Regions from separate parts of the Homo sapiens genome. Here region 2 is linked to region 1. Evidence: fine-mapped expression QTL. A gene starts in region 1. The other region holds a variant in brackets. All regions are shown on one strand. Distances are between the middles of the regions. Region 1 holds the start of TNIP1 (TNFAIP3 interacting protein 1). Region 2 overlaps TNIP1 (TNFAIP3 interacting protein 1).

The links. PIP is the estimated chance that this variant, and not a neighbour inherited with it, causes the effect.
Region 2: its variant is the best candidate, but not a certain one, in a credible set for the expression of TNIP1 in monocytes after LPS (Quach 2016, PIP 0.66).

Annotation. Positions count from the first base shown.
Region 1 is chr5:151,078,190-151,083,704 of GRCh38, reverse strand. It overlaps TNIP1 (TNFAIP3 interacting protein 1), which reads left to right and starts at 2,671. Exons shown (of 18, transcript NM_006058.5): 1 at 2,671-2,825. RefSeq lists enhancers at 1-34, 155-264, 2,077-2,136, 1,851-2,561, cis regulatory regions at 2,102-2,871, 2,371-3,159 and silencers at 2,437-3,106, 4,792-4,841.
Region 2 is chr5:151,033,334-151,038,333 of GRCh38, reverse strand. It overlaps TNIP1 (TNFAIP3 interacting protein 1), which reads left to right. Exons shown (of 18, transcript NM_006058.5): 13 at 1,413-1,544; 14 at 2,627-2,752; 15 at 3,267-3,332; 16 at 4,535-4,726. Among named protein-coding and RNA genes, the nearest start is that of GPX3, 15 kb to the right of the region's middle. The variant G/A (reference allele first, on the strand shown) is at 2,557.

The DNA.
Region 1 (5,515 bases):
AGCAGAAAGGAGATCGAGAAGTTGCGTGCTTTAAAACAAAACCAAATAAAACAAAACAAAACAAAGGCAGTTTGATTCTCCTTCTGGGTGTGGCTTTGTGCGAGTGCTTGTCATTACTCTGGAAGAACAAGAGGTTGCACCTGCCTGAGTCACTCAGCTCCCAGCGTCAGGCCCAGCTTCTTGACTTGGAAATCCCCTTCCAGACCACAGGGTAGCAGGCAGTGCCAGGCTAGGGGGCCTGTCTCCCATTCCTGCCATGCTCCTAGAGGCTAGGGTCTCACAGAGGATGTGTATGGTGGGATGGCGCCTGGTGAGGTTGCATTGCTGAGTTTAAGAGCCAAGTTCTACCCAATGCATGCAGCCCACATCTAGACACCACTATCATTTCTTGAATGCCTACTGTGTGCTGAGCCTTGGGCTTTATTTGCATTGTCCAATTTATCCTCATGATTCACATGAGGAATAGGTATATTATCCCCCATTTTCCAGACAGAAGCCTGAGGCTTAGAGGGGCCACCCAGGTAGTAAGTGGCTGAGCAGGGATTGGAATCCCATTAGCTCAATTCATAGCCTGTGTTTATGACAGTGGTGTTTTCTGCAAGGCAGTGAGAAAAATCATGTCATTGTAAAGACAACTTGGTACAGTGGACCAAGCACACAGGACTGGGAGCCAAGGCCCTGGATTCCAAGGCCCTGGTTGTGTCACTCAATGTGTGTGGCCTAGAGTAAGTCCTTTTCTAGACAGAGGACTCAGTTTACCTATCTGTCAAATAGGGGTTTGTTATCTATGGGCTCCATGGTCTCTAACAGGGTGGAATGTCCTGAAGACAAACCAAGACTTCAAAGAATGGAAGAGGTGGGGGCAGTCACGACTTTATAAATAAATGAGTTTTCTCACAAATTGGAACTGTTAAGAAAAAGGATCCAGAACTAGGAAATCAGACAAAAAGATGACTGAGTGCCATTTTTTTATGTCAAGCTTGAGAATTCCCAGCGGACACTTTGAGAAATGAAACTGTCTGCCCGGCTAAGGCCAGACATGCTATAAAAACAGCTGAAATAGTGTGGAAACAAAATGCAAGTAATTAGAGACCAGCCATTTTTAGGTAGATTTTAGTTTTCAGTGGGTAGAGGGTGGGGGTGGAGAAGATGTGGGTTGGGAATAGGAAGAGAGCCCTGCAGGAAGAGAATTGGGAAGTACAGGCACAAAGAGCAGGAAGAAAACTGGCAGGTGCGGACCTGATGGGTGGAGACGATGCCTGGGAGCTGCTATGTAAACCAGGGCCAGGATTCCCAGTTTCTCTGTAGGATCCCCCAGTGGTGAGACTCAGTGGTGCTTTGGAGTTTGCATCGCTTCCTCCCTCCCTCCCTTCTGAATCAAGGCATAAGTGTAATTCTTTTCATAATTAAACTAGAATGAATATCGTTTTGAAGATCTGATAACACCGTTGAATTAACTGAAGGAACCCTAGGAGGTTACAAAGCCTTATAGGAGAATCCCCAGATTAGGTATATAATTTGGGCAAGTATCTGTGTGTGTATTATTGCGAAGTCACAGTTGATTGATGGGTCTCTCTTCTGTAAAATGAGGGTGTGTATTAAACAGTTCCCCAAATCCTTTCCCCTAATTCTTTTTGAGGATGAGGGCCTGTCAATGACTAAGTTTTCAACAGTACCAGTGAAATGGGTCTTTTGCAATAGGTTTTTCATAAAGCTATATTTAGTTTAAAGAGCTGTTCTTTATTCCAAGGTTAGACCTTCCACTTTTTGGAATTAAAATTTAGCTTTCTTTCTTTTTAAAAATAAAAGGATAAGCTTTTAAAAAGCTTTCCTACCCTTAAAGCAAGTTTATGTTCCTTACCGGTCTAGGAAATCCCAGTCTGTTGGGATTATCTAGCCCACATATAAGTAGGTAGGGTGGAAGGCGGCCTCTGGATTTGCCCACCCGGGTTTGAATCTTGATTCAGCCCCTTACTGAGGTCATCTAACCTTTTTGTGACTCAAATATTATTTAAGAAAAGGTAGTAAAACCCACCTCCCTAGCGTGATTGTGCGAAGAAAATAATGCACGCAAAGCATCTACAATGTCTGGAGCAAAGCGTTTACGATGTCTGGGAATCCTTTACAATGTCTGGAGCAAAAAATGTTCGCGGTAGAGTCTTTATGGGTCTTTTCAGCTCGGAATTTCTATAGCTTTGTTAAGAAGAGTCCTGGAGTGCCCTGGACGGAACTCTGGGGGCCTGAGCTCCAGCTCTGGCTTAGGGCCAAATGCTTACGTGCCTTTTGGCAGGTCCCCTCCCTGTTCTGGCCTGTGTTCCCCTCGGCACAAGGAAGGGGCTGGGTGGTCTCTGTGGCTCGCCTCCGCTCTGAAATTCCGGCTTTCAAGGTGGCCCCAGGCCTTCGACAGGGGCTTCCGGCGCTGGGAGTGCGGCAAGGCGCCGCGCAGGCCCGGGACGGTGGCCCCAGGGAAGTCGCTCCTAGAGGGGAAGGCCGCCGAAGGGACGAGAGACACCGCGGGCCCCCGGAACCGCAGGCAGCCGGTGTTTACCTCGCTCGGTCCCACCCCAGGCGGCCGCGGGCCCGCCCGGAGCGCGCGGCGCGATTGGGCGAGTGGCCTGCCAGTCTCCGGGGACTTTCCCAGGGGTGGGGCGGCCCGGCCAGGCCCCCGGCACTTCCTCGTCCTCGGCCCGGGTGCCCTGCCCCCGTCCAGGAGCCCTAGGAGTGCTACGGGGGGCCGGAGCCTTGCCCGGGCCGCTGCCCCGTCCCTGGATTCGGGGCTGGACGCAGCAAGCGGGGCGCTGTGTCCCCAAGCTCCCCGTCCTCGGGTAAGCCGGCCGGCCCGGAGCGGGGATGGAGGGGAGGAAGGGAGGCCAGGCCCAGATCGTCCAGAGCCTCGGTGGCGGCGGGGAGCGAGCTGGGGAAGGTGGCTTGTGCACCCAGGCCCGGCGCGCGGGGTCCCGGGGCGTCTCCGCCAGCGGCCAAGCCGGGCTGAGCCGCTACTCCCTGCTTGGCGCTGGGCCTGGTGGGGGGCGCGCGTGCGCACTGCGCGGGGTAGCACGCCTGGGAACGGCGTGGGGCGGTTGTAGAGAGCGCAGACCCTCCGGGTGCGGGCGGCGCTGCGGCCCTTTGGGTGTCTATCCTGTGGAGACGAGTTGCCTACGCGGCGTCAGGAGTTTTCGTATCAAGTTGTGGAAGCAGTGTACATATGTCACGAGGAGGAAAATAATAATTTTTATTGGGCGCTTTCCAAGTGCTGATCTTAACGCTGTACGTGTATTAGACTCATTTAATTGTCACTTCCATCCTAAACATTAATATTGTTATTATCTCCATTTTATACTTTAGGAAACCGAGGTACTTGGAGCTTGAGGTCACACAGCTGTGAGTTGCAAAGTCAGATATGAACTCAGGCATTTGGCTCCAGAGTTCCTACTATACTATTTCTGTTGAACATATTTTGTATGCACATTGTTGGAGGCATTTGTGTGCATGTGCAGGATGGATGAGTTTCCAGGAGTGCTTCTGGGGATGGAGTATGAAGGCTGAGCTTTCCACTGTAGGACATTTGTGTGCACGTGTGCATTGTACATTCATTGTGCGTACAGGAGCAGATGGGAATTTTGTGCGACTGGGTGAGAGATTGTGTTTTGGTAGGGGGAGGGAGGGACTTTTGTGGATGATGCAGAAGAATCAGCAACGTCCTTCCCCACCCCCTTGCAGAATGACAGTGCAGGGAAATGTGTAGATTCCTAATGCATCATTTTTTTCTCACAGTACGGTCAAAATGGGATTTAATCAGCACTTACTCATTTTCCAAACAATGGGGTGTGATAGAGGGGAATTCGGCATCTGATGAGAGGTCAGAAAAGGGGACTCAGAATGTTTTAAAAAAATCCTTGACAAAGGAGGGTAGAATTGTATTAGGAGGGTAGAATATTAGTACAAACTCAGCATCCCCGTGGTGGTCTCTGTTTTGCAACAGAAGAAACTGAGGCAGTGAAAAAACTGATAATGCTAATAGCTTACTATGTGCCAGGCACAGTGCTTACATTCCGTATCTCATTTAATCTTTTTTTTTTTTTTGAGACAGAGTCTCACTCTGTTACCCAGGCTGGAGTGCAGTGGCACGATCTCGGCTCACGGCAACTTGCCTCCCAGGTTCAAGCGATTCTCCTACCTCAGCCTCCCGAGTAGCTGGGATTACAGGCACTCGCCACCATCCCCGGCTAATTTTTTTGTATTTTGAGTAGAGACAGTTTCACCATGTTGGCCAGGCTGGTCTCAAACTCCTGACCTCAAGTGATCCGCCCGTCTCAGCCTCCTAAAGTGCTGGGATCACAGGTGTGAGCCGCCCCGCCCGGCCTCACTTAATCTTTCTAACAACTCTTAATTTTCAGATGAGGAAACTGAGGCCCAGAGAAGGTTAAGGCTTTCCCAAGACTAGCAACGCTTGAATCCTGGACCCTGTTCCCTTTCCCCTGACCAAGGCTGCTGTCCTGGCTGTGTCCCGGGAAAATAATGTGATCAGGGACTGGCACTTCATGGAAGCACGTGATCATGCCCCTCTGGAAGCTGCCGCTGGGAGTGTGCAGTGTTCTACACGCTTATGTAACCACGTTTGTCTCCCAGCCTTGGGTGTTCCATGGGTATGGCATGGCACTCATGCTGAAGGTTGATGCCTGCCCCTGGATACCCCCACCAGTTTTTTCGGGGCCCCAGGAAGCTGTGGGGTCTGAGTCATACCCTTACCCCCAGTGCTGCCTGTGACTTGGGGCCCGGATGTCCTGGTTGGGTCAGGCCGACCTGATTTGAGAGAGGCAGCGTTGTAGGAGGTTGTTTGTCTGCCTCTCTCTCCAACCCACTGGTTACTGTTTTACTCCTGTACCCGCTGTGATTTGGTCACACCATGCTGGCCTGCTTTTCCCCCTCCAGCAAGCCAAGCTTGTTCTCATCCTTAGGCTTTCATACATGCTGTTCCCTCTGCCCAGGACATCTTTCCCCGTTTTTCCCATGGCTGGTTTTTCCTTATCGATCAAGTCTCAGCTCAAATGTCAGCTCCTCAGAGGGGCCTTCCCTGATCTTTTTATGCAAAGCAGCCCCTTTTTTCACTTTCTGTCACGTTACTATTTTATTTTTCTCATACGTGTATCATGCTATGAAAGAATCTTATTTGCGAATGAGAAAGCATATGTATAGAACTTAGTGTCTGGCAAATTGTTATTTTTAGTGTTTATTTGTTTACTGTCTTTCTCTTTTCCTAGAATAGAAGGGGGTGAGCAGGGACCTCCTTAGTCCTCTCGAGTGTATTTCTGTAGCGGGAGAAGAGTGCCTGGTGGATGGCTCTTCTGAGTTTGTTCAGTGAATGAGTAGAATAATGGCACATTTCACAAATGAGGAAATTAAGGCCTAGAGATGAGAAGGCAGGAGGAGAACCAGAGTGCTCTCCTAGCGCTCTCCCAAGCATCATTTCCTGATGACTCCTGTGCCCAGTGCCATGCAGTGTTCTTGATGCACA
Region 2 (5,000 bases), 45 kb after region 1:
TGGAGGAGTTAAGTTCATGGCTCAGCTTTTCGTTTCGTGCTAATTGTTTTTCCTTTCCCTCTGCCTCCTGACCCTGGTGACAGTGGACTCTGGCATGAGTTGAGCATTCCTAGGCCTGCTGGGGAAACCCTTTCTTTTTGGTTTTGGTGTTTTGTAAACACTGATTATGCCAAGTCTGGGGCCCTTGACCTGTTTCCAGAGAAAGAAACGCGATCTGTCCTGAGCTGGGGGACTTGGGGCTCTAAATCCAGGCAGAGAATTGTCCATGTTGCTGATCATAAAGATGACCTTGGAGGTTTTCTTGGCAGAGCCAGGGACAGACACCATGTGGATGAGTAATGCAGGGCATGTGGCCTTCTTTGCTCATGACCTAGGCATCTCCCTGTCGCTGGACCTCAGTCTTTTCATTTAAAAGTGGGGTGGAGTAGGAAGATAAAGTGGAGCCATAACTTCCCCTCGGAGCATCCTGAATTTACTCTCGGTCCTGCAGTTTCTTTGCGTGTCTAGGGGAGCTGAGGAGACCAGGTGGAAGCCCGAGTCCAAGTTGGGCCAGGTCTCTATCTCCCCTCGGTCCAGGGAGGCCCATGGGCGATGCTGTCCTGGGGCCAAAGTCCAGGGTGCCCAGTCTTGAGACATGTTCCAGAGTTCTGAGTAACATGTTAACAGAGTTAAAGGGGAAACACGGTTAACTGAAACCTTTAAGAAGATGTGGGCACACTGTTTATATAATCTATTGTGAACATGATAGATTAAGAGTATTTTTTTATTTTCAAAATGTTATTTGATGATATTTCAGCCCATTTTCAGTGTTAGAAAGGGAAAATATTAACTAAGCAGAAATTAAATCCAGTCTTCTCTATGTACATAAGTGTTGAGGATGGAAGGGGTGGTTTGGATGGGAATGGGTTGCTGAAAGTGAAGAATCTCAGGGCAGGGCAGTTGTTGGGGAGACTGAAGCTTCCCCCGGAGGACTTAATCTTCCTTCTAGGTCTGGGTGCTAAGAATTGAGCCACACATGTTCAGGGAAGGGGAGGTTTCCCCTTCTGCATGACAACCCCAGTTTAGCCTGCTGGGTAGGAGCATGTGCTGGGCTTGAATCTGTGCTCTGCCACTTACTAGCTGTGTGACCTTGACCTTGGACAAGCCCCTTCAGGTCTCTGAGCCTCAGTTTTCACATCTGTAAAATGAGGATGATGATCATAGTCTTTTCTTCATGGCACTGTGCAGAAGATCCAATGAAATGATATGTGTAGAATGCAAATAAATAGGGCAGCATTTATTAAATAGGACTGGTAGTGGTGGCTATTATTAGTATGATTATTATTAGGAAGGAGTTCCCTGAGGATGACCCCTCCAAAGGGCCCTGATTTCCAGGGGTTCCTGCTGATGGTCCCATCTTTTCCTGATTCCAGGCCCTGGAGGAAGCACTGAGCATCCAAACCCCGCCATCATCTCCACCAACAGCATTTGGGAGCCCAGAAGGAGCAGGGGCCCTCCTAAGGAAACAGGAGCTGGTCACGCAGAATGAGTTGCTGAAACAGCAGGTGAGGCTTCCGGGAGGAAATCAGGTGGGAGGTGCTCTGTGGGAGCTGGAGCTTTCCTGAGGGCCCAGACGGCTTGGAATCACATGGAACCTGTAATTAGTAATCCACTTTCTGGCCATTGGCCAGGGCCCCCCACTGGCTCTAGGTTTATCCTTTCCAGCACCATAACCCTAGCTTAAGTCGTTCCTCTACCACCTTTATGATTTAGCCATCTCTATGCCCCACACGTGCTATTATTTACCTAGTATTTAAAAAATAAATTCTAAATAAATGAATTTAAAAGGGAGCTTTATATCACTGCTGTAATTGGAAAAAACCATTTATTATTTGTCACAAGTAGAAAGTAACTGTACGCAATAAACAATAAAAACAGAACAATGTTATTAAACTCTAGCCGGATACTCTTGCCAAATGAAGACTCTGAACTGGAGTTCTTTTCTCCTTTATTTAAAGGAGATTGGCAGGTACTAAAATGGTATTAAAGACCTACTAGCCCTGAGGGACACAGAAGGATTGGGGTGAAAGAAAGCGAAAAGGTTGTGGCTCTCCCATTGTCTCTGTGCTATTTAATCCTCCTAAACTGCCTTGAACCTAGCCAGTGTCTCAGCTGATCTGCACTAAGGATGTGAAACTACAGGCTAAGAGACAGAGGCAGGCCCCACCCAACCCACCTCTGCCAGGGCACCCTGGAGCCCTAGCGGAGTTTGTAGGGTCTCTGCCCTCAGAACCAGCAGATCCAAACTCTGGTCTACACCACACTCTGGTTCTGTGATCACTGCCCCTGTGGGTCTCAGCGGAGTGAAAGGATTGCACTGGTTGATGGCTTTCAACGTTTTTTTAAAACCATATATCCTTTGTTCAAATAAAGTCCTAGCTTGAAGCCCAGAATGTAAGATAGAGGGACACAGAACTACTCTGTTTGAAGTTAAGGTGGAGGCTGGAGGTGTAGCTGTCCCACTCCCCATGGCGACCCCCAGCTCTGCCATCTGTGACCCCAGCAGGAGGCATGGGA[G/A]TCTGGGCCTGAGGAGAAATCCCCACTCAGGACCATCCCCCTCCCTCTCTTCACCCTCCCTCCACACCAGGTGAAGATCTTCGAGGAGGACTTCCAGAGGGAGCGCAGTGATCGTGAGCGCATGAATGAGGAGAAGGAAGAGCTGAAGAAGCAAGTGGAGAAGCTGCAGGCCCAGGTCACCCTGTCAAATGCCCAGGTAAGAGTGACTGGACCCAGGAAGGGCAACTGGCCTGTCCTCGTGGGGAGAGGGGGCATGGATTGGAGGGCCCTGGTGAGGCTGGATGTCAGGACCCTCACTGCTTCTCTCCAGCTCTGCAATCATATTTGAGCTCGGCAAGGCCCTTCCCCTCTCTGACTCTTTCTTTGTACAATTACGAGTTTTACTCTAAGATATCTCTACCTCTGACTTTCCACAGTCAGTTCTGGGCTTTACTCTCCCAGAGTGGAACTAAAAGATGTTAGCAGAGAAGCAGCGAGGTTCACGTGAACCCTCTTGACCTGTGCACAGACCACTGTGACAAGCAGGTGGCCTGCAGCAACAGCCTGGGCTGTGCTCCGCCCTCAGGGCCCTTTCCCGGGGCTGGCCCACGCATGGTGGCCCAGAGGGAAGCATCAGCCGGTCAGTCCTCGTGGCTGGTTAGGCCCTGGATCCAGGCCTGGCCAGAAACCACCTGTGCCGACAGTCTTTTCTCCCTCCCTTCTTCTCTCAGCTAAAAGCATTCAAAGATGAGGAGAAGGCAAGAGAAGCCCTCAGACAGCAGAAGAGGAAAGCAAAGGTGAGGAGGCTTGAGGGAGGTAGCAGCACTGACATCCTCTTACCTTCCTCATGGAGCTAGCCTGATGGATGCACAGTGTGTGCTCGGGCGTGGGGACATCCTCTGCTAACTAACTGATGAGTAATACAGGAAAAGCCTTAGAGCAGTATTGGTACAGAGGCAGTGCCCACAATGTATTAGCTGTCATCACTGTTGACATTCTGTGTCCAGGTAGCAACCTTCCGTGCCCATGTGACTAGCCTTCTTTGGCCGTGTATGAGCCTTCCGTGCCCATGTATCCAACTTTCTATGCCCATGTTCCAGCCCTCCGTGCCCATGTACCAGCCTTTTGTGCCCATGCCCAGCCTTTTGTGCCCATGCCCAGCCTTCCATGCCCATGTACCAGCCTTCCGTGTCCATGTACCAGCCTTCCATGCCCATGTGCTCAGCCTTCCGTTTCCATGTATCAGCCTTCCGTGCCCATGTGCCCAGCCTTCTGTGTCCATTTACCCAGCCTTCCGTGCCCATGTATGAGCCTTCTGTGCCCATGTGCCCAGCCTTCCATGCCCATGTGCCCAGCCTTCCGTGCCCATGTACCCAGCCTTCCGTGCCCATGTACCAGCCTTCTGTGCCCATGTTCTAGCCTTCCGTGCCCATGTACCAGCCTTCCGTGTCTATGTACCAGCCTTCACTGCCCATGTACCTAGCCTTCTGTGCCCATGTACCAGCCTTCACTGCCCATGTAGCAGCCTTCTGTGCCCATGTACTAGCTTTCCGTGCCCATGTACCAGCCTTCCGTGTCCATGTACCAGCCTTCCATGCCCATGTACCAGCTTTCCATGCCCATGTACTAGCCTTCTGTGCCCATGTACCAGCCTTCCGTGCCCATGTACCAGCCTTCCGTGCCCATGTACTAGCCTTCCATGCCCATGTACCAGCCTTCCGTGCCCATGTACCAGCCTTCTGTGCCCATGTCACAACCTTCCATGCATGTGTACCCAGCCTTCCATGCCCATGCAGCCTTCCATGCTCATATATCCAGCCTTCTATGCCCATGTATCCAGATTTCTGTACCCATGTAGCAGCCTTTCATGACCACATACCAGCCTTTGGTACCCAGCCTGCTAGCCTTCAGAGAGCTAACATTCTATTTAGAGGGTGATGAGATGGGTGTCCTTTGCAGCCTGTTGCAGGCCAAAGCCAGACGTCAGCCTTTCTTGCAGGCCTCAGGAGAGCGTTACCATGTGGAGCCCCACCCAGAACATCTCTGCGGGGCCTACCCCTACGCCTACCCGCCCATGCCAGCCATGGTGCCACACCATGGCTTCGAGGACTGGTCCCAGATCCGCTACCCCCCTCCCCCCATGGCCATGGAGCACCCGCCCCCACTCCCCAACTCGCGCCTCTTCCATCTGGTGAGTCTGTGTCCCTCCCTTGCTCCAGGGCACACACAGAGGCTGCCCCAGACACCTTCCAGAGAGGAAGGTTAAGTGAGGGGTTCAGAAACTGCATCCTTCTGAACTAAACAGCACCGTGGTGGCAGGTGGGTGTCCAGGGCCTGGCTCTGGGCTGCTACCCAGGGGCAGGGATCTGGCCACAGTCCCGCAGGGCTGCCCCACAGCTGTTCAGGGTCACTGGTCTAGGACGGAGAAGGCTGAGTAAGAGTGCAGGGTGGGAAGGAGGACTCCC